Linked DNA regions of Homo sapiens: all the other regions are linked to region 1. Evidence: fine-mapped expression QTL. A gene starts in region 1. Each other region holds a variant in brackets. All regions are shown on one strand. Distances are between the middles of the regions.

Region 1 (6,270 bases):
TTCAATACTATCTCTGAAAACTCTGCCCTTGGCTCTGTCTACCCTAAAACCCTGGCTTAAGCGGCAGATTTATAGAGCAAAAGCTTCCAAACAGACTTAAAGAAATCTCAATCTGCCTCCCTTTTTCTCCTTTTCCCTCTGTGGAATTCTTGCACGTTTAGCTGACTAGAGGCATGCCTTTTGCCCTCATCTTCCCCATCACTTGATTTCTCTCCAATTCTTCCAGGAGGAGTAGCTCTTCTGGCTGCAAGCCAGGAAGAGGGTGCGGAGTTACTAAAGGGGAATCCCTGGCTCCCCCACCACACAAGCAGTGAGTTAAAATCAGATTCAGAAACGATAGTACAGAAGCAAGAGTGGAAACGTCCGCTGGTGCCCCGGCCAAGCTGCCTCTACAGGGACGGCTGCAGTCTGCCCACGGTGGAGGGCTTTGCAGGGTGACTCCCCGCCCCCACGCCCTGCTCCATGCCTCACCTTCATGGTGGAAGCTGCGCACAGTGTTGGCTCGGCTGGCTGCCCTCTCCAACCGGTGGTCTGGGGCGGGTGAGCCCGGCTGACCTGAGTGCCTGCGATACAGGTCTAGCATGTAGGGGGGCACCACGGCGTCCCTGCTGGGGGTGGGTCTCTGTTTCAGGCCGAACATGCTGAGCAGCCGCAACTCGAACTCGCTCAGGACCTCGTCAGAGGGCTGGGATGAGGGGCGGCCCGACGACGCCGCCGCGAACTTCCTGCGGCCCAGCTCCGGAACGAGGCCAGCCGCGCCGCCCAGGAGGACCTGGGGAAGCAGCAACGCTAGAAGACAGCGGGTCCCGGCCACCATGGTCGACCTGCGGACAGGACCGACGTGAGTCACCCGAGTTCCCCGCCCAGTCCTCCCCCCTCGCGCCCCCGCGGCCCGGTCTCCCATTTGGCTGGCGTGCCTCCTCCAGGATGCCCTCCTGGCTTGGCACACTCACGAGTCTAGGTAAGACCGACCGAAGCTCAAACGTTTGGGATAATGAAGGGTCCCAAGTTCCTGAACCAGATGATTTATCGCTCCCATCCAACGCTTAGCTCGTCTGACATCAGATTTGGGATTTGCCCTCCCCCCCAACCAAACCAGCGCCAATGACTGTCACTTTTTTGTGTGTGACACAGCGCTGACAGCCAATGCCGGGAACCTGGGAAAACCACCGCTTGATCTGACACCCTGCGTCCCCTATACAAACCCAAATGCGGAGTGCTGAGCGCTGTCTGGCATATAAACACACATAAATGGTGCATGTGACTTCCTTAGAGGCACTGTATAGAACTTCCTGACACACACACACACACACACACACACACACACACACCCTTATAGCTTCCAGACCCTGTAAGCTCAAGGCCACAACTTCTGAAGCCACTTATGACTTGTGTCCCAGGCCCCTACCCTCAGGGGTGTCTCGAAAGGCAGCTCCATCCCGCATCCCCACAGTGCAGTCAAGATACACATGTATCTTCCCGGGATTACGTAAATGGTGAATATCTATTAATGCACGTGTCAGCTGTTAAAAACACAGTACCAAGTGATCCTTCAGTACTGACCCCTCGCATTTCTGGAAACAAGTAGGGAGAACCCCAAACTCCTAGTACTTTCCTAAATGGGACACGGCTCTGAGCAAAGAAACCAAGTCTCCCGGAAACACTTGAAGAATGGAGATCACCATGGCAGAGCGGACAGGTTCTCAGCTAACGGGTGAAACCCAGGGGCTACCCTCTCAAAGGGATTTCTTTGACCCAAAAAAGTTTTTAAAAAAATTAAAAATAAATAAATAAATAAATAAAACACCTCATCTAAGTGTTAACAGCTCCAAAAGTATTCCAGGGAGAGGGGAAGAAAGAGGGGTGGAAGAGTGCGGGCCGGGAGGGTGAGGCTTACGGTCGCCCGGGGCAGCTGGAAGTGGGAGCCCCTGCAGGGCTCCGTTGCACGTGGACTGGAGAGGGGTCTGTTTACTTCTGGCCTGGACGTAAGGAAGGGCTCTACCGCAGTGGCTGCCCAAATCCCCCTCCCACCCACCACCCACCCCGGGCCCTGGCCCGCGTCCTCTACCTTTAGGAGACCGCAGTCCGTCTAAGAAGCACGCGGGGACACGTCCATTGAAAGAGCGTCCACATGGAAAAACTCTGGTCAAAGGACCTGGCGCAAGGACCGAATGTCCGTTCCTTTTCTTTGCCTCCTCCTTCTCCCGGGTGCCGGCCGCGCAGTCTCTCTTTTCACGCTGGGAACAGCGTCTCAGTGTCGGGCAAGGCCGAGGAGTGGAGGGGCGGTGGGGCTCGGAGATGGCGAAGCAGGCTCCGCTGGGGCAAAGGCACCGGCGCAAAGTGGGGTGCGCAAGTTATTCTCCCTGCAAGTTCAAGAAGTCCCCAGCCAAGTGCTGACACACAACAACAGCGAGCAGGGGGAGGAGTGCGGGGCAGGGAAGGGAAGGGAGAAAGGAGAAGCTGGTGCTGTCGTCCTCCTTAGGAACCAGCGCCCGAGGGACGCGTGGCCCCGCGCGGGGCCGGCTCCGGGACTCGGGGGTCGAGGGTCGGGCGCTCCGCGCTAGCTCCGCCGCGGCCCATGGCTCGGGGCAGCCATCCTGGGCGACGCCGGGTCCAGGGAAGGGCACGGCGGCGATCTCGGTGCCAGGCGAGTTGCCCCCCCGCATCACTCTGCCTTACTCCAGTGCACCCCCATTCGCGCTCGCCAGTTGAAAGCACCGCGGCTCTGGCGCCCCGTCGTCCTCGGGCGCATTCTCCGGCGAGTCGAGCCGAGTCCCGGGCCGCCGAGGCGGGTGGCTGTGCTCTCCCCTCGCTCTCCTAGCCCTGGGGCCAAGTGCCCTTTGTGGCTAGCCTGGGGTCCGATCACACCTCGGCCAGCGCGTCCCAGGCCCCCGATCTCCTGCAGTAGGTGCTCCGCATCGCGGCGCTAGGGATCGGCTCCGGAGTCCCCGGCGCTCTGCGCGCCCGTCCGCGGCTCTGGCGCAGCCCGGGCAGCAGAGGCCACGGCGCTGTGGCGCGCTCTGCCGGGTGCTCCAGCCCGCGCGGGGTCTGCGGCGCGCGGGTGCCTCGCGGTCCCCGGTGATCCACTCGGCGCTGGCCCCGAGAACGTTCGGGTAGCCGGCGGAGGCTGTGGCGGCAGATGTGCGGCGGCGGCTGCCAGTCCCCGGCGGGGTGTGGGAAGCGGAGCGACTAGCGCAGCGCGAGCCGGGCGCAGCGCGGCGGGGCGAGGACTCCGGCGGCGGCGACGGCGGCGGCGGCGCCGTGGCGCGGCGCTCGCGGCTTTTAAAGGGGACGCCGCCTGCCGGCTCCCTCCCGGCCGCGGCCGAACACCTCCCCCTTCGCGGCGCGGCTCGCCGGGGATCCCCGAGCGGGCGGGAGCTGCGCGCAGGGGTGTGGACGGCGCGCCCGGGCAGCCGCGGCGGGGTGGGGCGGAGGGCGGGGGCGCGCGGCCGCCAAGGGGGGCGCTCGCGCCTCCACTCCCTGCTCTCAAAGGAGAGATCAGCTGGCGCGCCGGACCCTCGCGGGGACTCTGGAGGCGAAATCCAGGACAAATGCAGGGTCAGGGTCTGGCCTCTTATTTCCCCGCTGGGCCCGTTATTCAACTTTCAGTTTGAAGTTTTTCGGTAATATACGATTTCAAAAAACAAAACAAAACAAAACACCTCAATTACAGCGTATTTTGGCATAGCATAGACGTGGGATCCACGCTTCTGTTTCCCCGGAATAGGAGGAAAATTAAAAGAAAACAGCAGGCTGGAAATTGAGTGTTTTTAAACATTAATACATAGAGATGTATGTATTTACATATGTAAATGCATGTGTACAAATTTTTTTACATAAATGTGTATGCATTTATTTTCATATCCATACGCATGTAAATTTATAGTTACATAAATATATCCAATATACAAAAATATGTGCATATATTTCTATAAATATATTCATGTATGAGAATATATGCAACCGAAGGGCCACATTTCGGTTAATATGTCTATGTATGTGACATGGATGTCATCCTGCTTTACGTGACATGTGTGTAACGTAGACTGCGTGTGTGGCAGACTGAAGGATGGATGGGAGGGATTTGATTTTTTTATTGTACAATCACTTTGTGCCTTGTGATATTTATCTCACCCAGCTCAGAGGCAGGCGATTAGCAGCTCAGAGGAAGGTAAAATAACGCACTGTGTGAACCAAGCATACAGGACAATTCCAGTTTGGGACCTTGGAACCTTCTACGCCACCCTCTTCCACCAGGCCCCCAAGAAGTAGGGCTGTGACACGTGGCCAAGTCACTCCTCAGCTGAATATTCACTGAAGTCACTCCTCAGCCGAAATACTGCTCAGAGCTGCTGCACGATGAGTCTGGGGCCAAGGCTTTCTGCCCTTCCCAGGATTCCAGGAGCCCCCATGCACAGCACCTCGGGCTTGCCCAAATGATCCCCAAAACCAAGGGCAGAAAATTTTTGGAAAAGGCCAAGTTCTGCTTTCCCAGAGCTATCGGGCCTGCGAAACAGAGAGAAAAAAGTCAGAAGCAGGAGCTGGTAATAGAACTATTATCCATGTGTATTATTTTTTCGGTAGGGGAGCTAAAATAATACTAGGTTCCGCTCACGTAAATCGGATTAGCAACCCACAGAGGCGAATTAGGCACTTGCTGTTTCTAAAGGTATAAAGGTCAAATAAGGTATTTTGGAGGAAGCCTGACTACCAGGAAAATAAAAGGGGGTGGGGGAATTATTCAGGAACATGCTACTTTATTTCCTGAAAAAAAAAAAAAAGGTGCTATAGAAGTTGATTGTCACTCAGAGTCATTGCACCGCAAACAAGGAGGCAATAAAACATATCCTACTCATGGACACAGGGCTTCTGAAATTATTTCCTTTCCTATCAAGTTTAATTGAGAAGTTAACAATTGTTTCTCTCATTACTTAGATTTCAAAAACAAAACAAAACAAAACTTCAATGAGATTTAAGTAGCTTTTAAAGAGGAGGAAAAGTTGATAACTATTGGATGCACCCGAAGAAAAAATAAATAAATATCCTGTGATGACCTCAAGGATGTCTTGCAGCTTTAGAACTTCATAACCTGGTAAGTGGAAACCTTGTCAGTTTAGAATCTGAGGGAAAATGGGTACTTCTGAACACTGTTTCATGTTAGTGCTGCCCATTGCAGAATCTCTTTTATGTAGGGTGTATGATTTCTGAGGAACTACTGAATGCTTGTTCCAAGCACAACTTACATAAATTTTGGCCCTATTTTTTTTTTTTTAGAGATGGCTGCCCTCTTGTGGTGGAAATGAGTTCGAACGCTTGAAAGAAAGAAGTCCATAAATAAATAAATAAATAAATAAGTAGTCTCCAGAGACTGATTTGGGATCGAAGTACAGGATGACTGTACCTACCCGTTTTCCAGGGAAGAGCAATAGTCAGAAATGATAAATCTAAATACAGACGAGCTATTTCTTTTTTTTTTCTCTCTCTTCACTAATGGCTACCTTCCACCTGCAACTTAGAATGCTGGGTTATTTAATACTTTGGGAGAGTGTCTGTTTGCCTTGAAAATATCACTTGCAGCTAACCATTGTCAATTCTACCGTTTTCAAAGGTCCATTCAAAGTTTTTCAGTTCAGAGGGTGAGATTCAGTCTTGCTGAGTTTATCAGACTTAGTGCATCTGCCAGCAAATGTGGAAGGGGCAGAGGTGGGAGTGGGGAGTTGTTTAAGATAGGGATAGTAGAAGTTGCAAATTCAAATGCATCAGAGGGTACAGACAAGTTATGTAAAAAAGCAAAGATGACCAGATAATGATTCCACATAAAGGAGGTTGTTGCTATTCCATTTCAGTCATCTCTTGGCAGTTTCTCAGGAGATAGTGGAAATTTGCATTTGATTGTGTGTGGACAAGACTCGGGATGAAATTAACTGCTTACAGTCATACTTTAGCAATTTTAGCACTTCAGCTCACATGATATTCCATTTTATTGCATTCTGTAGCTATTAGCATTCAGTATTGTTCTTGCTAGGCCAAACATTATGCAAATCAACATTAAAATAGTGATCCCCATGTATTGTAAAGTTCACAGCAGGCATTACGTGATCCATCTACCTTGTAATTGTCATTCCATGGAAACCTGTGGCAACTGCCCTGAGAAACCCTCTTTGCTTTTTAGCATACATATCGCTTTGTTACAAGGGTGACACCCATAACCATCCCTACTTACTTTACCTGGATGAAGTTTTTTTTACAGGAACTTGGAGCCAAGGCAAA
Region 2 (6,270 bases), 120 kb before region 1:
TTTACCTCCAACATTTAGTCCTAAATCCAGCTGTAAATCCAGCCTGAGAGAGCCCATCAAACCGGCATGATTCATGTGCCATCCTGTTTGGATATCTGGGGCCATAGCTGACCCACTTGGGAAAGTACACGGTCATTTTTACTTCGCCAGGCATCCTAATCACAGATTCCAGGCTCAGTATTCTTTGTTTAATTTTCTCTGAGAATTGGCTGGACTGTGATCTGATCCTCAGAGAAAGGCAATCATTTCTAAAGGGTAGATTTTTAGAAAAGTTTGCAATTACAAACAACGAAAAATATATGCAGGCTTTCTGCGGTTATGCTGAAGGAATGTGCAGGACATCCATGCCCCTGTCATCTCAAGGCTCTCTTCTAAAATCAGGACCTGTTTCCAGGGCTCTTTGCAGCAGTGTTTCCCTTTCATTTCTTGTGTGAAGAAAGGAAGTAACTTGAGAAAGCAACTTTTAAGAAACTTGAAACACGTTTACTTGTTTCCCAGGCTTCAGGTTAGGGCTGATGGCTCCACAAAGTAAGTGCAGCCAGATTCATGAAACTCGTAACGTTTTGGAGGTGATGTCTAACTGACCGTCTCATTCTACAAATGAGAGCACTAAAACCTTGGAAAAGCTAAAGCTTGCTGGAGGCCTAAGTGATTTCACAAACAGAGCTTGTCTGGAACTTAGTACTTTTAATTCCTAAGCCAGTGCCTATGCCCTAAGCCAATAGGTAATCCAGTGGGCAGTGGTCCCCAAGGCAGGCCAGGCCTGAGCTACTGATAACCCTCTTTATCCCAGTCCTGTGAAACATCAATTTCAGTTAATGCCAATAGCTTCAGGGGCAGTTTTTCAAAGCCCTCTCTCCAGGACATCAGCCTGGATGCAGAGCACAGAGAAATAAAATAATTTACATAGTTTACTAACTCTAAAACTCAGAACTGAGAAGAGAAAGGGCCAGTTTTTCCATATGCAGACTTCAACCTTCTCAAGACCCAAATGACAGGTAAAAATACACATTCGAATGTCTCTCCTTGCACACACACCGTCAAGACCACTTTGCCTTCCCTCTTTCCCAAAGCGAAAGAATGGATATGCTGGGAGTGTTTGGTAGCCTGCTATCAGAAGAAAATAGAGACATCATCATTTTCCCTTTTTGACATTTTTTTTTCCTGCCAGTAAAAGAGAGAGAAACTTGCTTAGGGATCAAAATATTAGCTGGAGAAAGAATTTACAGGGGTGCTGGCAGCTGGTTGGCTGTAGAGGGAGAAAGCCTGTGGGGTGTGGACCGCCAGTCTCGGAAAAGCGCACTGCAGAGCAGGGTGCAGGAGAACCCAGCAAAGCAGGATTTGACAGGTGCCTGGCTCAGGCTCCCACTGGCCAGGCAATCGTCAGCTCTGTTCTGCTTGGCTCTCTTAAACAACAAGTTAAGAGCCAGCTGCTTTCTGCGCTTGGCTCTGAAATCAGCAGGTCTCTCTGCTCTGTTCAGCGGAGGCATCCCCAGCAGGGAGTTAGTCAGGGTACTGGCTAGAGCCTTCATGCCTCAGAGTAAAGGCTTATGAAGGAGGTAATTACGCAGCTGGAAATGGGCAGGCCCTTAGGGCAAAAGAGAAAGAAAGGAAGGTGATCTTCTCACTTACTTAATGCTTAAAAGAAAAAAAATACCCTATGCCTGTCAAAGAGAAGCATCCTAGTATTAGTGGTGCTATGATCAGAGATCCCCTCTCCCTTACCCATTGTGTGGTTACTAAATCAACACAGGAAGCCTGTCCACAAGACTTCAATGTCAACATTGCCCGCCCCTACCTGACCACCAATTTTGCATTGATTAGCTTCCATGATTCCCTGTCAGGCAATTTAGTTGTTTAGTTGCTGGTTAGTTGTTTCTATTTTCCTGAGCATTCTTCTCAAACCTGTTCCCAATGTTTATACTCTGGAGCTACTGACCACCCTTTCCTTTCCCGAACTCTTCCACTGTCATCAATTCCTCGAGAGGTCAACATTACTGCGGGCAGAAGGAAAGATGGCTGACCCTGGCCCTGGACTTCCTTCCCTCTGACACACTGAATACCCTTCGTCAAAAAACCATAATCCAAACTGCAATGTTGGTGCCTATAAGAGAGCTAGTCCCGCTCTCCTCAGAGAGCCCAGCTTGGAGATTTCTGATGTTGAAGTTACCTGCCAATTAGAATGGCCACATTGCAAAATCCACGTGTATTTTACACAGAACAGCCACTTCAGATCTTCATTCACTCAAGGGCCTGCAGTTGTATCTGTTAAAGGTGTCACAATAAATGAACTCATTAAAGTACCACTCGTTTTTTTGATTTCTTGCAAGGTTAGCAATTAGAAATTTTTTTCCTTAGCTTCAGAAAACGTTCTTTAAACAAAAGCTTGCTTGGAAGAGATAAACTGGCAACTGCTCTGGTTGAGGAAGAAGTAGTGGGGTATTCTGTGCTCTGGCCCTTAGTCCCGTGAAGCATGATTTAGGAAACTAATTTGTCCTAGTGTCTCCCTTTTTTTTTTTTTTTTTTTTTTTTTTTTGAGACGGAGTCTCGCTCTGTCGCCCAGGCTGGAGTGCAGTGGCGCAATCTCTGCTCACTGCAAACTCCGCCTCCTGGGTTCACGCCATTCTCCTGCCTCAGCCTCCCGAGTAGCTGGGACTACAGGCACCCGCCACTACGCCCAGCTAATTTTTTGTATTTTTGGTAGAGATGGGGTTTCACCATATTGGCCAGGATGGTCTCCATCTCCTGACCTCATGATCTGCCCGCCTCGGCCTCCCAAAGTGTTGGGATTACAGGCGTGAGCCACCGCGCCCGACCTAGTGTCTCCCATATTTGAACACTTCTTCCTTTCATGCTTGCCTCTTTGGAATATTCGTTTATTTCATAAAACTTAAGGCTATTTTGACATCTTTTAAAATTGCATCAAACAACTTTACTTTCTCCTCAAGTTATGTTATGATTGTCTGTTGTTACTCAATGCAAAA[T/C]AGTCATTTCCCATCAAGTTTCTTTTGTTTCCACTCAATGTTTTCTCTCCAACTCACCAGCATTTCCTAGCTGCCATTCTTTCTCTTCCCAATTTGACACTCTTTTCATCCAGCTTGGTCTGGCTTCCAAATCACCCTTTCTTAGTACTTTCATCCTACAACAACATTTAATTTAGTATTTTGTGGTTGAAATGATCCAGAGAGGATCAGAGAATTGGAGTGACTTGCCTAAGATCACACCACTAATATGGCAGAGTAAAGACAGAACTCAAGCTTTTCAACAGCTTGGCTCCCCTTTCTTCCTCTTTTGTTCCTCTACTGGCTCTTTAGTTCTCACTCTGGTCCACATGTGTATAGACCCAGTCAATAGTTTCTATGGATATCCTGACTGCCCCTATAAAATAAGTGGGTTGCATTAGCAATTTCCAATGTCATCTTTCAGCTTCATCTTTCTATGAGGAATGGGAGTGGTTAAGATCATTGACACTGATCAAACCATTCAGGCTTTATTCTAGTAGAGGTAAAACTCTTTTGACAATTCTTAAGTATACAGGTAACTTTCTATTAAACGGTTTCCTCTTGCACATACTTTGGTCTCCAGCCCTAGCCAAAACCCAGGCATGCAGAACTGGCAAACTGCTTGGAGGAAGACCTTCCAAAGATCTCAGAAATTTCAAGAAAGGCTTTTGTGGTATTTCTGGCCCAGCCAGAATCAGGAAGTACCTGATCACTCACAAGGAAACTAGTTTTTGCACAATTTCCAACATCTCCCCCCACAACCCCCACTTCATCCTAAAGCCTTTCTTGAGCCACACATTCCTGCCCCTTCCCCAAACACAGGTTTCTGCAGAGTCAAAACTTTTGATAGTTCAGATAAGGTTCAAATGAGCTGCTGAACTCTTGGAGGCTGGAAGTGAACCTAGCATTTTGTTCCTTGCTCATCCCCGGTAATGAGTATACCAGGCTGGCTATGTCAAGGTGGTTTGGGTCACATAGTGAAAATCAACATAATTGAAAGCATTAATCAACAAACAATTACATGTAATGGTACAGAATGACTACTTATGAGGCCTTACATGATTCTGACCAAATCTGCCTATGGTAATAACAGGAGGCACACAACTGTACCAGAGGGTTTTTGTTTTGTTTTGTTTTTTCAAGAAATAAATGCTGAGGGCTTGCTTTGGTTCAAAAAAAAAAAAAAAAGAAAGATGCTTTCAAAGGTAGAGATGAGGAGAACAAGATTTGTGTTATGGAGCCAATGAACTTCAAATTATCCTCCAAATGTAAAGTATATTCTAGATATTTTACTGGGTAGAGCGGGAAAAAAGCTTCAACACATTTCAAGTGGATGTTGCTTTGAGTTTTTCTTTAAGATGCTTACTTTAGAAGACAGATTTCATTATGCTTTAGTTGCTTTCAATCATTAGAACTTTGGAGTTGATTTTGAAATACTTATTTCTTGCATGAACTTGGGGAAGTAGGGGAAGCAATTAGATCTTGTGATTTTTAAGGCTACACTGAGGATAAGGTAAGAAAATATCATAAATTTTATTTCATGCTTTCTTGCCAATTGACAGAAATGTGCAGTCCATATGAATTCATATAACAAGGGTGGAATGTTGGAAAAACCAATAAAGATTTTGTGGTCTGACCTATAATAAATGTAGTTTGATTTAGAGTCTGTTTTTCACAACATGGCAAAATGAATCATAAAATAATGGGCCCTGAAACTCCTGTACTTTTTAACAATAGCCTGGGGACAGTTTACTGTGTAATGAATTGTAATTAACCCACCTTCAAAATATTTTATGAGTATTTTGCCAATTAGCTTCGCATGCTTGCTAATGACTCATGGCTAGTGCATGTCTTTACAGAACCGGATTTTACAGAGCACATCGCCCTGTTAACTCAGCACAAGTGTGCAACATGGGAAGGATGACATAGGTAGGTTGGAACACCCTCAACAGCATCCCTACTTTGCCAACCCAGTGGACTCAGCCATCATCCCCCAAGCCTAAGATAATCATAATGGCTTGTGGTGTCAGAGAACTTTGGTTTCTGATGGATTGCAAGGAATGCTTCTCTCCCTGCAGACACATCTGTTGTTACTTAGCACTAACATATATAATGCTACTAATTGTGGAGCCATCTTTGTTTTCTTTACTTAGCACTCTGGTTAGCATTATTTTATCTTCATGGTTCATGGATTTCTGCCACTGACAACATAAGTCCACTCTAGAGAAAATAAAACAACTACCAAGCTGTCTCCTTACATTGCTTTGCTTTGAAATTAGAGGGATCGTGTACAGCCAAGCATGCTTCCTAGGATTCTAGCTCTGATCTTGCTATGTCAAGAGTTGGCTTTTCCTTGAAAAACTAGTGCTTCCACTGGCCTGTGAACTGACTAAAGGGACTGCAGAAAGAAGCCCAGTCTGGCTCTAAATTCCATGCACTGAGAAAGTTAATCGCAGGCAAGGTCAAACGTTCCCAACTCTTTGTTCTTCAGAGGCCAAGCCAACAAATTCCAAAGCCAATTTAAGAGATCTAACCAGAGATGGCAAAATAGTTCCATTTTCATTTCATTCAACTATGAATAAAGAATCTATAAGGATTAATTAAGGATCTATATAATTAAGGATCTATAATGTCACCAGTGTTTTTTCTGCCAGCAAGGTCGTATACCATAATAAAGATATAGAGGCTAATTTTCAGTAGTATAACACAATAATGTAGTGCTTGGGGAAATCTAAACTACACAGGAATTATTTCACCCTGATGCCTAGAAAAGTAAACAGCAGCTTTTAGCCTCACTCCTTAAGGCAATGGTGGTCTAAATTGCAGGGAAATCTTGTTACATAAAAAAGGCTACTCTAAAGAAGGCCAAAGACAAAGGGGAAAAAGTTTGAGTTCCTCCTGAGGGTTCTGCTTATATCCTAGGGGGTATTGCCTCAGCAGGAAAGTCAATATGGTCCCACTTCCCTCAGTGAAGAACAGGAGATGGAGTAAGAGAGGAAGAGAACTCGCTGCAATACTTCCATCTTTTGGAATAGGTATGATCCCAGCAAGACATTTCTTCTCTTGCTGGGAGGTTTAAGAGTATTCTTCTCAATTTCCCCTCATTTTCTAGGCCCAAATCCCTCACCCATTAAAGAACCAAATAGAGGCATGAGATCTCTCTTGCTAAGATGAAATAAAAATGACTGTAGTTCTTGGAAGCATTAATTTTTACTAAGCCCTCATCATACACAGAGAAGTGACCTGAAGGGTTAGGTAGCTTCTTCCT
Region 3 (6,270 bases), 190 kb before region 1:
ATGTTTATTTGAGCCCTAATCTGCCATGGTGTCTTATTTTTGTGGACTGCCAGCGGTTATCATGGGATAGTGGTGGTAGGCAGCAGGAGATTGGCCTAGGCCTCTCATTGATTAAAACATAAAGTTTAGACTTTTGATCTTATCACCAAGTTAAGTCATATACAGTCAATGTGTTTGTGTGTACCCATGTATATGTGCGTTAACTGTTTATTTGTTAGACACAGGCATTTAAAATATACCACATTTTAATAACCCTGAGTTGGCATTTCCTCATTTTAAAATGTACTTGGGCTCTCAAGCCATAAGAATTTCTTGTTCATTTCTTTACCTCGGAGGAATTCTGATGATTACCCTGCAATACAGTGGTAAAATCCATGCCACGGCTTCTACCTGCAGGTCTAGGAAAGCATCTCTAGGGGTTATGAACTTCCTCTGTTATTAAAGGATTCTCTAGCACCAAGTGGGTTCTGAGGTAAGACCCGCAGAGATCACTTCACTAGGTTTCTTCATTTAATTCCCACAATAGTCCTATGTAACTACTATTATCTCAACTTTCATATGAGGAAGGTGAGGCTTAGAGAGACTAAACAAGACAGTAAGTGACAGAATGTTATTCCAACCCAGGCAGGCTACCCCCAGAAACCAAGATCTTAACTATTAAGTCAGATTTACATTAAAGTTAATACAAATTACTGCTTATTTCACTTTGAAACATATTAGAAATGACCAAGAATTAAATAACTCAAGAGGAACTACTTACTTTTTGTTGTTTATATACTATTATTTTAGTGTCTCTGATTGAGGATGGCTAAATAAAACAAAAAAAATTTTAACTTAATTTCCTAAAATTTATGAACACACACATGCATATACATAAGACACACACTATATACATGAAATTATCTACTCTTATACATACACACATATATAAAATGACATAATAATATAGTAAAATAATTCATGTAAGAGAATTCATTTTGATGTAGCATGCAAACATCTGACTGAAAAGAAGTAGAAAGGTCAGAATATATTTTATAAAGAACGCATAAAATTGAATAACAACAACAAAGCCCAATTCAAAAATTGGCAAAAGAAATGAATACACATTTATCCAAGGAAAATGTACAAATAGTTGATAAGCACATGAAAAGATGCTTAACCTCACTAACTTTTATGAACATGCAAACCAAAACCCACAATGAGATGCCCTTCATATCCATGAGGGTGGGCATTATAAAAGCAGAACCAGACAAGTGTGGACAAGAATGTAAAGAAATTGGAACATTTGTGCACTGTTGATAGAAATGTAAAATAATGCTACCACTGTAAAACACAGTTTGGTAGTTCCTCAAAAATTTAAACACAAACTTACCATATAATAGACTAATTCTACTTGTGGATATGTATGCAAAACAATTGAGAGTAAAGATTCAAATGGATGCTTGCATGTCAATGCTCATAGCAGCATTATTCATAATAGTCAAAAATGATAACAACTCAACTGTCCGTCAACAGATGAATATGTTTTTGAAAAAATCCAGGGGTATATTCATACAATGGAATATTATTCAGCCATGAACAGGAATGAAATTCTGACACATGGTGCAGAATGCTAGAGAATGAATGAACCTTGAAAACATTATGCTAAGTGAAATAAGCCATACATAAAAGGAGAAATATTTTGTGAATTGACTTATATGAGGAACCTAAAATAGTCAAATTCACAGAGACAGAAATTAGCGCTGTGATTGCAAAGGGCTGAAGGAAGGGAAGAATAGGACTTATTGCTTAATACATAGCAAGTCTCTGTTTGGAAATAATAAAAAGTTCTGGAAAAGAATAGTAGTGACAGCTGAACAACACTGTGAATGTGTTTTAATGCTACTGAAGTGTACGCTTAAAAGTGGTAAAAGTGATACATTTTATGTTATATATATTTCACTACAATAAAAATTAATAAAATAATCAGTAGTTCTATTAAAGATTCCTTTTGAAATAGTAAAAATAATATCTTCCAATTCGTAAAATCTTTTTATTACATTCTGGCCATATCATTGGCCAGGATACTTCTAATTGGGAAGTTCAGCTCTTCACTGAATAAAGAAATCTTGATCTACCTCACATAGTCTACTTGCTTGTTCTCTGTACATTTAAATTATAGTGTTACCACGAAGAGGGAAAATTATACCCTAAGAATAGGTTCATTCACTATGTACTGTCTATAACACATTTATAGCTGCATTCTTCCCCCACAGTACATGAAAAGAGAGGAAAAGAGAGAGAGAGAGAGAGATTGAAAAGCATCCAGAAATGAATCATATTGAAAGTTAATAGCCTTTCTCATTTTTCATGCATCCTTAAACTCGAAGAGGTAAACCTGAAGGACTGTATCATAGCTCTACACTTCCCAGTGGTGACAGACGAAAATAAAGTTTGACTCAGCCTAACAGGAAAAGTCTGACTCATTAAATTCAAAGCCCTGACTCTCTGCAGAAGGTGTTTGGAGGAAGCCCTTGATGTGTTGATCCCTAAAAGAGAAGACTAGCAGGGGAATGATCTCACCCACCCACCACGCACTGAAGGAAAAGATGAATGAACCCATCACTATGTTGATATTTCGAGGATCTCAAAATACGTCTGTTGATATTTAAGGAATATGTTTTAAAACAATCCCCATTTAGAATTTATAAGATCCAAAGGTAATTCTGTCATATGCAGATTTCTTAGCTTGCTTTCTCTAAATATCATTGCCCAAATACCCCAGATATTCTTGACTGTATATGTAGACAATCATGGGAGAAAATAATTTACTAAAAATGGTCTAAATCCTGTTCTATCTCCCCATGGCTTTTTGTGTCTACATTAAGGAGAATAAGAACTATCCATTCCTGTAGCTTCTTTCACAATAAGGGAAAGAACAGGGGGAAGTAAATAAAAAGCTTTGCTCTATCTTACGTAACTTGAGGGAACTTGCCTAAGAGAAGGCTTCTCTGTTAACTCTGGTGAGTTTTGCAGCCTGAG[G/A]AATGGACAGATGTGATAAGCCAGCACAAGAAAAAGAAGTTCAACTCTCCACTCACACACACATTCTCTCTTTCCAGTTTCTCCTTTCTTTTTGCCACCTGGCTATTCCTGTCCAAATCCACTGACTCCCAGCTTCAGTGCGTAGGGAAAATGTACCCTCTCTCATAAAACCACCTCATTCTTTCACAAGAAGAATCCTTCTTAAAATACCAGGAATTCTCACCAAAGTTTTCAGAAGTATAACAAATTAGAATTATCATGGAAACTACAGTAAAACAAAATGGACTATTTAGCTTCAGTTCCAGGCCAAGTCAAAGAGAAGAGGTTTGCAGGGCCCCAGGCTAACTACATTCTCTGCTTTCCTTTCCACGTACACCTCAAATTAGAGAGTGGCTAAAGGAGCCTGCCTCCCAGGGAAGGGGAGACAGTGGTGCTATAGGCATTGCTGGAACGTTTCAGGAGGACTGACTTGGAGTAGGGGTATTCTTTGAGGGGGGGTGGGGTTGGGGGTTTGAGCAAAAGGAACAGTGCATGTTTAATGAGTTCAAACCTCTTCCACACATTAAGTAAAATATTTTAAAAGGAAACAATATTACTCAAGTTTTATTTGTTTCAGCTACTTGGTTACAACTCCACATGGACACAATTAATGGAGGAAATAGAATATTTTATAAGCCCAAGACTCTCCCTCAATCTGTGACCAAGAGAATTTCTTTGCCTTAATCACTAGGCATTTTTTTGGGATGGCTATATATTGCCAAAATAATTATATCCTAAGCTTCAGAAAAGATTTTGCCTAGTTACTCCCTAAAAAGTTATAATGGTTCTTCCTGTGAGAAAATCAATAATAAACTTGGGGCTCTTTTGCAATATTTGCATGTGTATTTTAGCAACTCTTAATATTGCACTATTTCACATGTGCACGTACACACACATGCACACATACACATGGGTCATTGAAAGCAATGTTTCCTGTTAATCCAAGAATTGATGGGCAGACAGAATGACCTGAAAGCCCTGTTCCCAGGAAGTGAATCCCTTTCTCCAGCCTAGATGCTGTTGCTTACCAATAAAAAACAAATGGCTTTTAATTGATTGTGCAAATAATTAAACATTCTGGATACTGGACACGTTAAAAAGTAAAAGAAAGAAAGCAAAAGCAGCAAACAAATTCACTCATTTTGCCCAAATGTTAAGGAAGAGAAAACTAACCCCAGAAGTAACTGAGTGTACAAAAGCCTGTAAAGTTTACAGGAACAGAATGCTGGAGATAATAATTCATAAAGACTTTTCTGTTGGTTCTCTTTCAATCAGGTGGAGTAATGAAAGAGATTTCACAAAATCCCAAAATCAGTTTCTCAGAGCTTTCACAATTCTAATTGCTGAACATAAATTGTTTGACGATTTTTTTCCCTTCTGCCAAGGATAATCTTAAATATAATATGTGTCCTTTATTTTTCTTCTTTTACAGCCAAAGAAAACCAGAGTACAAGAGCTCTGGTTAAAGCGTGATGAAGGTGAAGTGTCAGCAATACCGGAGCAATTGAGATACGCTAGGATCTCATTGTGAGTATTACCCTCACATGTGATTCCATCCTCATGTTTTGTTCAGACACCATAAAAGGCAGCCAGTCCCAGGCCATCCGTATAGACTGTGTGAACATTCCTAATCTCTGCACAGCATGGCAAAACAAATAATCACTCCATTCACTTTGTTTCTGCTCTTCCCTTCCCTCCACCCTATAAATATGGTTTATTGTATACATAGCTTTTAGGGTCAAGTATTAATGGTGAGAACCATTAACAGGGCAAAGGTCAGTGGCTCCTGACTTCAGTGACCCTTAAATTTAATCTAGCGTGGCAGAAATAAAATTACATGTGATGAACTTACAAAGTGTGATAAAACCTGCTTTGCCCATACAATTGGGAGGCAACAGAAGAATGAAAAAATTTTAAACAGCAAAATCTTACTTGGGGATCTAGTGATAGCCCCAGAGTTAAAGGTTGACATTCATAACCAACTGCCATCCTTGAGGGCCAAATTCTGACATCTTTAGAATATCACATGGTTTCTGGGCTCCAGCAACCTTTCTGGAATTTTATCAAACACACACTCGTCTTTATTTTTATTTAGCTTTAGGTTTACTTCAATAAGAGAGATAAGATTGCATTTTGGAAAATATAGAAACGAATTTATTTAGCCCAGCTGAACTTGATCTTTCAAATCAGTCACACTTACACATACTTTTTATATCTTTTCAAATTGAGTGCTGGGTATTTTAGTATTTTGTCTTTCTCTTTGTCCACCTGTTTTCATTTAAGTATATCAATTATTGTCCCCTAAGATTTGAAACATCATTTCAATTTTTACATTTTTAAAAAATGCTAACTATACAATTTTTTCTGACTTCCTATTATTATCATTTCTCTTCAGTAATTCCTTTCCCAACATTTTTCAGCTTATTCTAAGACCAACTTCCAAGAGTCTGATTGATTTAAGTATGATTTCCTACTTTTTATTTTGAAATAATTTTATTATTTCAAATATTTAATTTCAATAATTTAAAAGTTACAAAAATAGTACAGATAGTTCTTACATACCATTCATACAGATTTCCTAAATCTTGAACAATTTATAACTTTAGAATTTAATCATCAAAATAAGGAAATTGATATGGTTAAAAATATTAACTAATTAGAAGAATTTATTCAAATTTCCCCAGTTTTCCGCTAAGGTTCTTCATGTCTCCTTCATATTTTCAGGTTTGTGCCAGTTGCTCCATCTTTCCTTATTTTTTATGATTTTTGGTGTTTTTAAGTAATTATTTTATAGTTTATCTTTAGGTTTGGTTTTATTTTGTTTTCCCTGTGATTAGACTGCTGTTATGCACTTTTGTCAAGAATAGCACAAATGTGATATGGTGCCCTTCTCTGTGCTTCATACTAGAGGTAGGTGATGTCAACACATCTTATGACTGGTGATGTAAACCTGGATCATTTTGTTTTACTATGGTGTCTACTGGATTTCTCTGCTCTAAAATTACTCCTTTTTCCTTTATAATTAATAAGTATCTTGTGGGCAGATACTTTGAGACTATGCAACTATCTTGTTTCTAGTCCTTTTTCCTCCATACATCTTAGCATCCATCAATGGTTCTTGCCTGAGATAATTATTATTTGTGATTGCTTGATGATGACTTTTTAATTTTTTTCATTCCCTCTATATTTGGTATTTGGTGGTTTAAATTC
Region 4 (6,270 bases), 94 kb before region 1:
CCATTGTTTCACCTGATTGCAGGCAATAAAAACAAAAGAGAAAACATACACAAATAAAAATAATGTGCACTTACAGTGCTTGGACTACGTCCCTTGTAAAATTTGTACATAAGAACTGAGAACTCTGACCATAGGTTTTACTCTCCAAAGGAGTCATTTTAGATCAAATAATCTCCCTAAACTTTCCAGTTATTTTTTCAACTGGGTATCTCTCTCATTCCTTTGGTGTTTAATTTTAACTCAAAGTTAAATATGTTTGAGTTTCTGGGCCCATCATCAATGAAAACTTCCTTAAAATATTAATTGGAAAGGCAAGAGTGCCCTAGGTATGCATATCAGGAGGTAGTACCTGGGATATTTGTGACAAGATTTTGACACTGTGTGCTACACGATGGTGAGGCTTTTCATTCCTTTCCCAGAAAAGCACCATGCAAGTTCTCATAGGACTCAGAAATCTGGACATCAGAGAAAAGAGAACCTGCAGTTCTCACCAGGGACTCAATGACCATCCACTGCCAGGCACTATTTGCCAAGGTACCCAGCAAAGCCATCAAGCTCTCAAGCTTGTGCTGGAGTCATCAGCGGCAGGAACCGCTCCAGTAGCAGAAGCCAGCTCACATCCAGCTATACTCAGCCCAGACTTCCTAACGGTATCACATCATAAAACCATCGTGCATCTGGCACATATTTAAGGCCAAGTTGGCAGTATTTGATATGAAAAAGAAACCAAAGACTGAATTAGCATCCCACACGGTTGTTTTTGCAAGTCATAGACATAGTGCAGAGGCATGTGGAGTGGAGGCCACAAGACGCCCACGAACCTTTCCTTAAATGAAAGCTGGGCTGCCTAGAGCCAATGAACCCTTGGAAAAAACAAGCCAGCAAACAAACAGAAAACTCACAAAAACAACAACCAAAACCTCATGCTTTGTTGCCTTAACTTTCGCTTGTCCCAGGGAAGATCTTGTTACCTGGAGACTCTTTTTTTGGCTTACGTGGAACAAGTATCAGGACTATCCTTCAGATGGAAACTTAAGATAGAAAAAGGATCTACCTCTTTCCTTAACCTATAATTCCAAGTCACTTTTAACTCCGGCTTCCACAGTGAGTGAGGTCTCATCTGAGCAAGTCTGGAATGTTGAGGGGAAACCCAGCTTTCAGAAAACAGTGCTTTGCACTAGAACACAAATTGATCATTTACAGGGGGCTTTCTAACTGCATTCCTTCTCTGGAGCATCACCTTCCTGAACACTGAAGGAATGATTGGAAAGTTGTTTTGAGAGCACAGAACAGGAAGGTGGAGGAATGAGTACAAACAGTTTTAAAGGATGTCTAATTAATGTAGACCATGACATAGCTATGTTGTGGTAACTAGAGTTACTGTAGCTATCTTATTTTTGAAATCAAATTCTGGTAGCATAGTCCGATAATATTGTACAAATATTACAAACATTTATAATCAGAAATTTTCCAGAAAAGCAGGAATCTATGTGCTTCTTTGAAAGTAAACAAGAAAACCCAGATATATTAGAAACGTCATTCCAAGTCAGACAGAATACAGAAGCCACAAAAAATTAATAAGTCCAATAACAAAGAAAAAAATCAATGAAATCAAATTGTAAAAAAAAAAAAAGCCTGTATGTGGAATGTAGCATAGTCTCAAAATTACTATTTCCTCCTTAACTTTCCTCATACTTTCCACTCATTTGATTACTGCAAAATACTTGACAAATAGCAAATTTTTTGAACTTAAACATCACGCCCACAAATTAATGATACTGAATTAAAAGAATGATCTTTAAAAGATATGAAAAAGACAACTTTTGCAGGAAAATAAATGCAAAAAGCAAATAAGCTTATAAGATGATGTTCAAAACCATTTTTAAAATGTCAATCAAAACAACGAAATAAAAATAAAAATGTTCACCAAAAAGATTGTCAAAAATTAAAATTTCTGAGATGCCACAGTGTTCTGCATAACTGGGGCCCCTGTAAACATTAACATTTTTGGAGGTCAATTTGACAAAATTGAGAGTTAAAAATATATGTTCTCTTCCACCTAGAAATTTTTCTACTAAGAATTTAACACATAGTCATGAAAGTATCCCCCAAGATATATGTAAACAGTGATCATTTTAGCATTATATGTAACAGAAAAAATTGTAAGCAAACTAAATGTCTAGCAATATGGGACTGATAGATATCTGTGTATCTGTACAAGAAAAATCTACAGCATGGTCTAAAGAATGGGCTATACCCATGTCCTGAGATATTAGGTCAAACTAGCAAAACAGTAATTTCATATGGTTCAACCTAGAAGAAACGTGTTCTAGACGTATTATTAAGAGGGGGAAAGTAAGATGTATCACTATTTGGAAAAAATATGTTACTGTAAAGTGTAAATCATTATTTGTATTTTTTTAAAGTATGCATATGGGTGAAAGTGTATACTCACTACTCCCAGGAGTATACAAGAAATATTTAACAGTGACTATGGAGTTAGGAGCGCGGGGAGTATTGCTATTTCTCATCTTGTAGCTTTCTCTACAGTTAGATTTTTTAAACTAATTGTACATAATACTTTTACCAATAAATAAATAAAATCCTGCTGTCAAGTTTGCTAAAATGCTATTCTGCGAGAAGGAATTAAACCAGGCTTCAGTTTAAAAGAGCTTGTCATCTGGTGAATGGCAGGGCCACAAAAGAAGCTCATTACCATCTCCTTCAAACCCAATGAAAGGGGTAAATTTGGTCCTTGAGCATAAACAGTAATTATCCATGCATTTCCCTTGCAACTTCTTTATAAAGATTTCAAGAGAATGAATTACAGTGGATTGAGTTTCATGTAGCAGTGTTTGCCCAATACAGGTGAGAGTCTGAGCTGTCTTTGATCCAGATGGCATAAATATACAAAAACTGCAACAGCCAGGGCACATTTCTCATGAATTCCTAAACCCACCAAAATATAAAATTTACCAAGGGAGGTAAAATTTCCACATGGTAAAATTCCCTTTCTTTTCCATGTGTGGCTCAGGAGAGCAATGCCTTCTATCTTGAAAATAGATATGAAATAAAATGCATAGACAAATCTTCTGGTTTTAAAATAGATTACTTGTGATCGAGCTTCTCTTTTATCATTTGGGATATTTTAAAACTTTTACTTAAAGATAAGTTTAAGCTTATAGAAAAGTTGCAAGAATAAAAATACGCTCATATAATCTTTATCCAGGTTATGTATTGTCCCATTTGCTTTATTTTTTAAGGATTGTAAAAAATCAATTAGGTTTTTTAAGGAAAAAACCTAATCCTACTAAATGAGTTTGGAGGCCTTGATCCAGTAGTGCCTCCTCTGTTATTCCCTTTTTTCTGATTGTAAATAATTTGTAGTTGGTCACGTTACTGTCTTAAGATAGCCCTTATGCCTTCTGGAGCCACCATTTCATCAGCACAAGGGTGGTTTTTTTCTCCCTATCTTTTAATGCTTTCATCTTGGAATTAAACTGATGTTTTGTAAATAGGGCATACCTCATTCGTTTTGTAAGTAAGGCATACCTCATTCTAAAATATTTTCTTTTTTT[T/A]TAAAAAAAAGCATGTCTTTTGATAACCCATTTTATTACATCCCAGTGTCAAAATTCCCCAAATTTCTTTTCACTGGTGACCAAATTGCAAGAAGAGCTAATGCACTTGATCATGCATCCTAAATGCAAATCATTCCTCATGTCATCTATAACATATAAGGGGAATATATCACTTATGTGTGTATTCTTAAGATTTAGAAGGAATGATTTGCACATGAAGATGTCAGCAAACGAATATCCAGGCATACAATGATTGCTTAATAAAATAACTGTTAATTGATAAATGGCAATGCTTAAAAGTTACAGGTAGGGGTATTTAGTAAGAATTGTATGCATCTGAACATTAGTTTACTTAACTTATAAAAGTAAGTCCAAGTTTCTAATATTATCTAATCACAAACTTCTATCTCTTATTTGACATTTAATATAGGACATAAAATATTTTTAAGAGACCTATGAATTTCTAATCATGTACTTATTTGGTCAAATAATTGTATGTGCTTTTGAGACTTAAGCAAAAGTTTAAGTGTTCTGGGATGTATTAAAAGGGTTGAAAGGTGAACAAGAACCCAGAAAAAATGCTTAGGAAATACTAGAGAAACAATCACACGGATTATAATGCTAAAATTAACAATTGATGACAACAAAGGCTTTTAAGTAAGAGAACACTTGGAACTAAAAATAAGAATGCCATAGGAATTAATAATAGTGTCAGAGATGAATAATCCACAAGTTTGATTATGAATATGAATTTGCATATGTGACTGTGGAAGGCTATGATGTGAGAAATATATTGAAGTTTTGAGTGGTACAAAACAATTCAAAACAGAAATACTCTAAATACTGCCATGCTGCACAGCTCTCATCTGACCCACTGCCTGACATCTCTAAGTTTTTAAAAGCAGCTTATAGGAATAAGATTGCTGAAGATAAGCCCTTTAGAACATAACTGAAAGTACAAGCAGGCAAGGCATTGCCAGGGGTAGACCCCATCCCCAGAATCCAGTTATGGCCATCTGTACTTTGCTTTCCCAAAAGTTAGATCATTGTATTCACAAGGTGTTTAGTATCAAAAGGCAGGAAGTATACAGCACTGTAAACAAATGAACACATATGAAGAGTTAACCTTTTATTAATAACTATTGACAAGTAGTAATAGTGAATTATAACCATCACTAAAGCACTGTTAATTTATTGTCCTTTTGCAATGACTGTGATATAGAACCACATAGTAAGAAGACAAACCTTATAAGCTACCATCATTAAATTTAAATATTTAGGGAAGCATTGTTCTTCAAATTAGCACCTTGGAATTATATAAAATGTGAAATTAACAATAAATTATTATGCATAAATACTAACTACATGTTATGTAATATTAAATAGAATATATTGTTATTAATTCTAACATTAATTTTCTACCCACTTATTCTACATTGTTTAGAGACACTATCTTTTATATTTATCAAAACAACTCTAAAATATAGTAACTAGCACTTTGGGAGTACCCAAAATGTACTAAAAATGATAGCAATAAATTGTCATTTTGATGATTAATTCTACCATTCACTTTGTGCCTATTTTTTTTTTTGCCAGATATTACAGTAGGGACTTTATAAAACACTATATTTATTAATCATCAATAAAACCCTACACAACAGTAATTATTATCTTACAACTGAAAAAACTGAGACTCAGAAAAATAAACTGCCACATCCAAGAACTCACAGTCTATAGCTGATGGCACAAACATCTTATTGTTTGATAGAACCACTTTGACTTAATTCAATTATACCACCTCAGATCCACTTTTGGTATTGCCTGAACTAGCTGCAGAATAAAATTAGACTTTTTATTGTCACACTGTCCTTTGGTGCTCTCTTTTTCCATCCCACACTCATTTTTTGCAGCGGGTTCCAGGGAGATCTGTCTTGCATTCATTCCACACCTCCCTTCCCGTGGAAGTGCCTGGAAGTGCAGACTCTGGGGGTAAAGAAGATACTGTCTCTCTATTGCTCTGACCAGGATTGATGCAAGCATGAATGTGTGGCTGAAGTCAATATGGCCAGAGTGACTTCTGGGGATTCCCTGAGGATTCTGGAACGGGGACTCATTCTCTGAGTGATGCAGGGTGTGGATTTGGTGCCATGAACACAAAAGCACACAAAACAGGGCTGAACTGAGAGACTGAGAAGAGAATCCTGAACCCTGAACAAACCAAGCTTGAAGCTTATAAACCTTCCAGATGTGAAAACTGACACAACCCCATATTGTTTAAGCCAGCTTGAATTGGTCATCTCTTATTTATAAGCAAAATGCATCCTGATAAACTCTCTTGCTTTTGTGTCCAGTACATCATTCTCTCCCTACCTCTTTGTAATAAAGATGAGCTTACAAACCACATTCTGAGCATACCCCCAAAAAATTTCATGCCGAAGCTGTGGTCCCAGGTCTGTGGAAAGAAGGGAACAGATTGGCATACACCATACAAGCTGCAGGCTATCATAAGCCCTATAAGCAACACTGACCAAAATTCAGATAGAAATTTCAGCTGCCAGGAATCCAGTGACTGCAAGTTAAGAATCACCGACACCATTTCATTTAATTGACATCTTTCTAAAAGTTCTTACTTAAAGCAACCTTTCCTTCACCTTATTCTATTCCCAGATTCTCACTAATGGAAACCAAGGCT
Region 5 (6,270 bases), 980 kb before region 1:
CAGGCACCCGCCACCATGCCCAGCTAATTTTTTTTTATTTTTAGTAGAGACGGGGTTTCACCACGTTAGCCAGGATGGTCTCGATCTCCTGACCTCGTGATCTGCCTGCCTCAGCTTCCCAAAGTGCTGGGATTACAGGCGTGAGCCACTGCGCCCGGACAATAATTTTTTTTTATATCACAAAGATTTACTGAGAATTTTAAGTGCTAGACATTGGGCTTTGGCTGTCTCCATTTTGGTAGATGACATACTTGGTTAGGGTTCTTTGGTTGTAAGCAACGGAATTAAATTTCACTAACTCAAGCAGAAAAAAAATTATAGGAGGGGTTGGGGGACTGTGTGGGAAGACATGAGCATGAAGGGAATGAAAAGAAACACTAGAAAGGATAGAACCAGGCATTCTAGTAATCTCAGTAAGAGCAACTGTGCAACTGAGTTGTTGGGACTAAAATGTTGGAATACAGATATCCCAATTTTTTTTTTCAACTTTTCATTACTCAGCTCACAGTACAAAGTCCCAGGACAGAAAGTCCAATATGTCCAGCTTAAGCAATGTGTCCACAAAGTTGGCAAGGAAGGCCAGGCACCTTGATTTACAGCTTCACCAGCTTGGACCTAATGAGAGGAAATAATTCTCCAGAAGGCTGTTACCAAAAGAAGAATGTTGGACAACCACAAGGAATCCTTCTCCAGGTCTCTATGAAATAAGTTTAACCAAAAGGCAAACTCAGATATTCAAGACGTAGTGTTATAAGATCCACATAAATGATATTTGTTGTGGATCAGTTTCACTCATTTATATCTACATGAGTCTGGAGAGGTGAAGGCTTTTGTCCTGTTTTTACAGATAATAGAAAAATTGAGGCACAGAGACATGTAGTCAGTTGGTAAAAGTCACAGAGGTGACAAATGTCAGTGCTGGGGTGCAAACTGAAAACTGTCATTTTATTACCATACACATTCATGCCTACCCATTCTTAAGAAGTTTAAGAATGTGGGAGAGAACCAGTGAAAGATGATGGATGTTGCAGGAGGCAAATGTTATTTGGGGTAATTGGAAAGACCTTTAGACAAGGTTGGGACCTGTAAAAACATAGTAGTGCAAGGGAAGGCTGCAGTAAAATATATTTCAGGGAGGCAGAAAGGAGTGAACAAGGACTTAGGAGCAGTTGAAATGAATCAGTGATGGCAATATTGGTATGGAGGTCAGGTAGGGTCTTGGATTTGTATTTTACTTGCCTAGTAATAAGAAACAGTCAACATTTTTTGATTGGGGTAAGGAATGGAAGCACCAGGAAATGTGTGTTAAAAAAAAAGTAGTCTGTGTCTGCCTGTTCTATTAATGGAGTGAGTGGGGCTCTGAGAAAGGAGCCGACCAGGCATTGAGCAGCTGAAAGAAAGTGAAGCTAAGGTAACCTGTGCTAGTGAACTGTGGGTGAGGGTGGAGGAGCACTGATGGGATCCAGCTGCTGAATGGATGTTAGGGATGGTGGTAAGGTGAAGGGAAATGTCAAATAAGTTTTAAAGGTTTTGAGCAAAGAAGGCCATCTGATGGGAGTACCATAGTATGGACAAGACAGGAAGAAGAATAAGCTTGGAGGAAAAGAGAGATGGTCAGTCTTCTGCAAACGGAAGACTGATGCCTGGAAGAATAATGTAGCCTAGAAATAGAGTTGGGAAGTTATCTCTGTAGAAATGATGCTTGAGACATAGCATGAACCAGAAGTGAGCTTTTGAAGTTACACACTTGAGAAAGGATAGCAGTGTACTAGTGCAGCTTTGGAATGCTCCCTAAAATTAATCTGACCTTGATGGTGTGTAAAACTCAGGGCTAATTCAGAGTTAATTTTTATATTAAATTTCTTCTCATTTTTAAAGCAATCATCAAAATAACGTTATTTTCTGTTTCAAACTAGAAAGATTTCAGATGACTGGCATATGTCCCTTTTCTTAATTGAGCCCATCATTCCTTCACTTCAACGAACTCTCCTATATGTGAATGGAGTGCATAAAAGGAAAGGATTTTGAGGAATTATCTTTGCTACAAGCAGTAGTTACTGTAAAATAGCAGAGCTGAAAAATAAATACCTCAGAGCTTTATATTAGTGAATTACCTCATTTTTATTGATGAATTGCCTCATTTTACCTCTGTGAAACTGTGTTTTTCTAGCCACTGTTTCTAAAGACATAGGAATTCCCAGGAGTTGGCATCAGGAATCTAGAAAAGACCAATGTCATCTCATAGAAAACTCATGAGCTTATCTGGTAAGAGAAGGGAGGGGCTTCACACGACATGCCTGCCTTTTTCCCTCCTAGGTGCTTGTGATATTTGTTCTTGGTATCATGTATAGAATGCTGGTGTGTTTGCCTCAAATCCAGATTGTTAATATTTAGTTGTCAGAAAGATAAAACTATGATTCTTATATAAATATAGGATATAGTGCAGTTCTTATTAACTAGTTCACTAGTTTATACTAGTGAACTAGTATAAATTAACAATAGTTCACTTATATAACTCATCCAGAAATATGACATACCTGGTTCAAAGGGCCTTTGAGGATTAAGAGTGTATATAGTCTATCAGGAAAGACATATTAAAATAAAATTTTACTTTTGAAGTTAGAGACAAAACAGTTTAAAGAGCTATTAGGCAATAAAATCATAACCTTTGGGACTGTCAATTCAATCAGAAAAAAAGTAATTTGCACTTCTATAGGATCAATATTTTAATTAAGGTAACTGGTAAACTCACAGAGGCTGGGCCCTGATCAAGTACAAATAGCAAATCAAGTAAGGTTTATTTTCCTAGAGGAGAGCAAATGTTGACAAATTACAGTAGACCAAAATCCACTGGCCACTT[G/A]GTTTTCTAAATAAAGTTCCTTTGGGACAAAGCTACACCCATTTGTTTGTTTCCTATGGCTGATTTTGTGCTACAAAGGTAGAGCTGAATACTCATGACAGAATATATGGTTCTCAGAGCCTAAAATGTGTACCATATGACCCTTTGCAGGAAAAGTGTCTTGACTCCTGGCCTAGAGAATGAAATAATCCTTGGGTGGGCTGGTAAACAATGAACATGCAATAATCCATTTACCTGCTCGTACATTGTGGATAATTTCTCCCAACAAGGGAAAGAAATGGAAATCTTGACAAGGGAAAGAAATGGAAATCTTGACAAGGGAAATCTTCTAGTATAAGGATGAAAAACAACAAAGCTCAAGCTACCTGGTGTGCAAGGTCAGGGGTCATGTCTTGACTCCCAGTCATAATCCAGTGTTAAGAGTATCGGTTTCTTGTGTATATTCTAGTGGGAAGAGAGAGAGAAGGAGACAGAGAGAGAGAGAGAGAGAGAGAGAGAGAGAGAGAGACAGGGTGAGACAGAGAGAGAGAGAGAGAATGAACTAGAGAACTGTGAGTGTGGATATGATTTCCTTGCCTCAGCCCTGCAACTCAGGACAGTCACAGAACATGGGTTGGCTAAGGTGTCACTCTGGGAGCCAGAAGACCTGCATTCAGACAGAGGCTCATTGTTTTAAGGTTTGTATTTAGTTTGGTTCCAGCGTGACCTGTTCTTTCAGCTCCTCAAACACTCAGCACCTCCGTTCTCAGAAACAGCCACAGAGATGAACCACATTTTCTTCCTACAGAAACACTGAAGTCAAGCTCAGAGTCTGCTTGCTTGGGAGGCAACATGCCTTCCCAGTTTTAGAAGAGAAGGTGGGACCAGATGACCCCTGCTTCTCAAAAATCTCCATATGTTTTTATAAGCATATTTAAAAATAATGCTGTTTGCATAAACATATATGCTACATTAATTTCCTTTTAAAAATTATTTTAAAAATATGTTATTGTATAACCAAGAAAACGAAGATATGTCTCTCCCTCTAAGGTCTGGAGATAATGTACCATTGTCAGAATACTTAAAGGTACCCTAATTTTCCAAACGTGAACTCTAAACAGAGGATACTAAAAAGAGTCATTATAATCATTGCATTTAGATTCCTCAATATTTAAGTCTGTGCCCAGGGTACAATTGTTGAGTGCGGCAGGCAGATTGAGAATTTGGCTGACATATTGGTATTTCAGTGGGAGGATTTCAGAGCTTACTTAGAGAAATACCTATAGATGTCATCATACTAATGACTATCTGCACCCAAATAAATTCAAGTGGGCAGCACTGTTAAGGTCACATAGCAGAAATATATTCATTCTAGAAGATCTAGATATAGTACAACTTTATTTAACTTCAGATTAGTGATGAGTCTATACTCTTGTTAGTGGAATAACCATGTAAATTATCATTGAATTGTCAAATAAAGTCCTTACAGACATTTAGAGTTTAATAAGATGTAACTTAAAATCTATAATGGTTGTGCAGTCCCAAGAATAAGGTGTGATAGAACTGTTGGATTTCACCATGTTTAGAGCTCTTTATGCCCAGGGAGAAGACATGTATACTCCTTAAGAGGCAAAGAAATGGCAAAATTTAAATGAGATCACCTCATGTTGAAGTTGCAGACTTTGTTATATATTGTGAATCCAGAAATTTATTGGACTAGTGGCCACTCCTTCATGTAATTGTGGGTTAATTTATATAGCAACTATAGACTGAGTTTAGAGCATCCATTCATGTCTACAGTAAGAATCCGGCCAACTTGTTGAACAAAAACTCCATGTCCTTATTACCCTAAACAATACTGGAGAGGCATCAACCAAAATTATATGGCATAATATAATAGTTTATGTAATTCCAAATACTATACTTGGTTTAAATCTTTGATGGGAAACAGTGTCATTTAACTGGGATGGGGACACTCTTCCTCATTTAGTAGGTAACTTTTAACCTCAATGAGATTTAGAAAATTAGGGAAGTGTTTAGGAAATTTAAAACCATAATATTAATATTATCTCATTAAGAAATCTGTGTTAGGTTAGTATTTTATAATTTTCTAATATTTAAGAGTATTTAACCTAGTAGAGCACAGAAGAAGTCCAGTTTTAAAATTTATAATTGAACAATCATTTAAATTTTTTGTTTATAGAATTGGAATATTTAAGAGTATCAATGTTTCACCAAAATTTTAATTTAATTTATAAAATTTATATAAATTAGAGGTTAACTGAAATATGTAAAAATTAAATAACTAAATATTTAAAATGTAGTTAAAATGCTTAAGATATTTTAATACATTTATTTATAAAAACTATTATTTAAAGGTCCTTTAAAAGCAATCACTTTTAAACACTGCTAGAGAATAGGATTTTCAAGCTAAACACAAAATAACTTATAAACTAGATTCTTGAAGTTTTCGTATTAGTAAATTCAGTATTACTTGGTTGAATGCAAAATGAGCCTCTGAATAATCTTTTCTGCATATAAAAATTATACTTAAAAATATCCCCATCCCAGTCTCCCATATGACATTGCTAATTTTGGAGATAAAGAAATGGAATCAAAAGGAAGTAAATTGCTTTGACAAAGATCAAAGATATGGAAGAGAAGAGCTTAAAGTCCCATCTCTGGACAGCCAATACATTTTCTTTCCAATAACATTATTTATTAAGACATATTGTATACAGGTGATATAGTTCGTTTATCTTATTGATTTATTATTTCAGATTGTAGCTATTTATTTCTCATATTAATACCTCAGTTCTTTGGGATTTGCATGGTGTTATTCTAACTCTGTGATTTCATTGTTATAGTTTTCTAATGGTAATTATTTGTGGGTATTAGAGAGACCAAATGGATCATTTTCTTAAATGAATGGGTAGCTTAACTCCTCTACATTAAAATGTATAAGTCTATCAGAATTTGAAGTGCAAGAAGAATTCAAATAGAGCTTCTACCTACACTAAATGACATCAAAAGCAGAAATAGAGTTTCAAAAAAATCTGGAAGTATCAAAAGTAATTATTGGCAGCCTGTGATTTATTAACAGCCACATTCAAATCAATCTTGTTTGTAACAAACTTTGTCACATTGAAATGAAGTTAAGGTGGCCAATGTCCAACACATGCCCTTTGTTGGCTGGAGGTTGGTAAAGAGACTGGAGACAATTTGCTCAGGCAGGAGAATCCATAAACTCTCCTCACTGGGCCTTGCCTTGGAGATCAGCATTCAGGAAAGGGGGTTATACACTGGATTCCTTCTTATATGACCTAGTAGTTTGATAGTGAATTAAAAAATCAGTTATAACAGATGGACTCACACAGATGCAAATATATATACATACTGTGTGCATTTTGAATTGTATAATATGGAAATAT

What was found.
Region 2: its variant is fine-mapped to the expression of BMP2 in whole blood (TOPMed, PIP above 0.99).
Region 3: its variant is fine-mapped to the expression of BMP2 in whole blood (TOPMed, PIP 0.93).
Region 4: its variant is fine-mapped to the expression of BMP2 in whole blood (INTERVAL, PIP above 0.99).
Region 5: its variant is fine-mapped to the expression of BMP2 in whole blood (TOPMed, PIP above 0.99).

The regions. Positions count from the first base shown.
Region 1 is chr20:6,764,674-6,770,943 of GRCh38, reverse strand. It overlaps BMP2 (bone morphogenetic protein 2), which reads right to left and starts at 3,258. Exons shown (of 3, transcript NM_001200.4): 1 at 2,069-3,258; 2 at 472-824. The coding sequence starts at 817. It overlaps LOC105372517 (a long non-coding RNA gene), which reads left to right and starts at 3,460. Exons shown (of 4, transcript XR_937229.2): 1 at 3,460-3,623; 2 at 4,139-4,544; 3 at 4,936-5,092; 4 at 5,275-5,351. RefSeq lists cis regulatory regions at 2,579-2,753, 3,394-3,493, 3,500-4,290, silencers at 3,125-3,174, 3,265-3,314 and promoters at 2,204-3,363, 2,753-3,394, 2,204-6,270.
Region 2 is chr20:6,881,726-6,887,995 of GRCh38, reverse strand. No RefSeq gene overlaps it. Among named protein-coding and RNA genes, the nearest start is that of BMP2, 120 kb to the right of the region's middle. The variant T/C (reference allele first, on the strand shown) is at 2,985.
Region 3 is chr20:6,952,950-6,959,219 of GRCh38, reverse strand. No RefSeq gene overlaps it. Among named protein-coding and RNA genes, the nearest start is that of BMP2, 190 kb to the right of the region's middle. The variant G/A (reference allele first, on the strand shown) is at 3,022.
Region 4 is chr20:6,858,452-6,864,721 of GRCh38, reverse strand. No RefSeq gene overlaps it. Among named protein-coding and RNA genes, the nearest start is that of BMP2, 94 kb to the right of the region's middle. The variant T/A (reference allele first, on the strand shown) is at 3,579.
Region 5 is chr20:7,748,598-7,754,867 of GRCh38, reverse strand. No RefSeq gene overlaps it. Among named protein-coding and RNA genes, the nearest start is that of HAO1, 190 kb to the left of the region's middle. The variant G/A (reference allele first, on the strand shown) is at 2,861.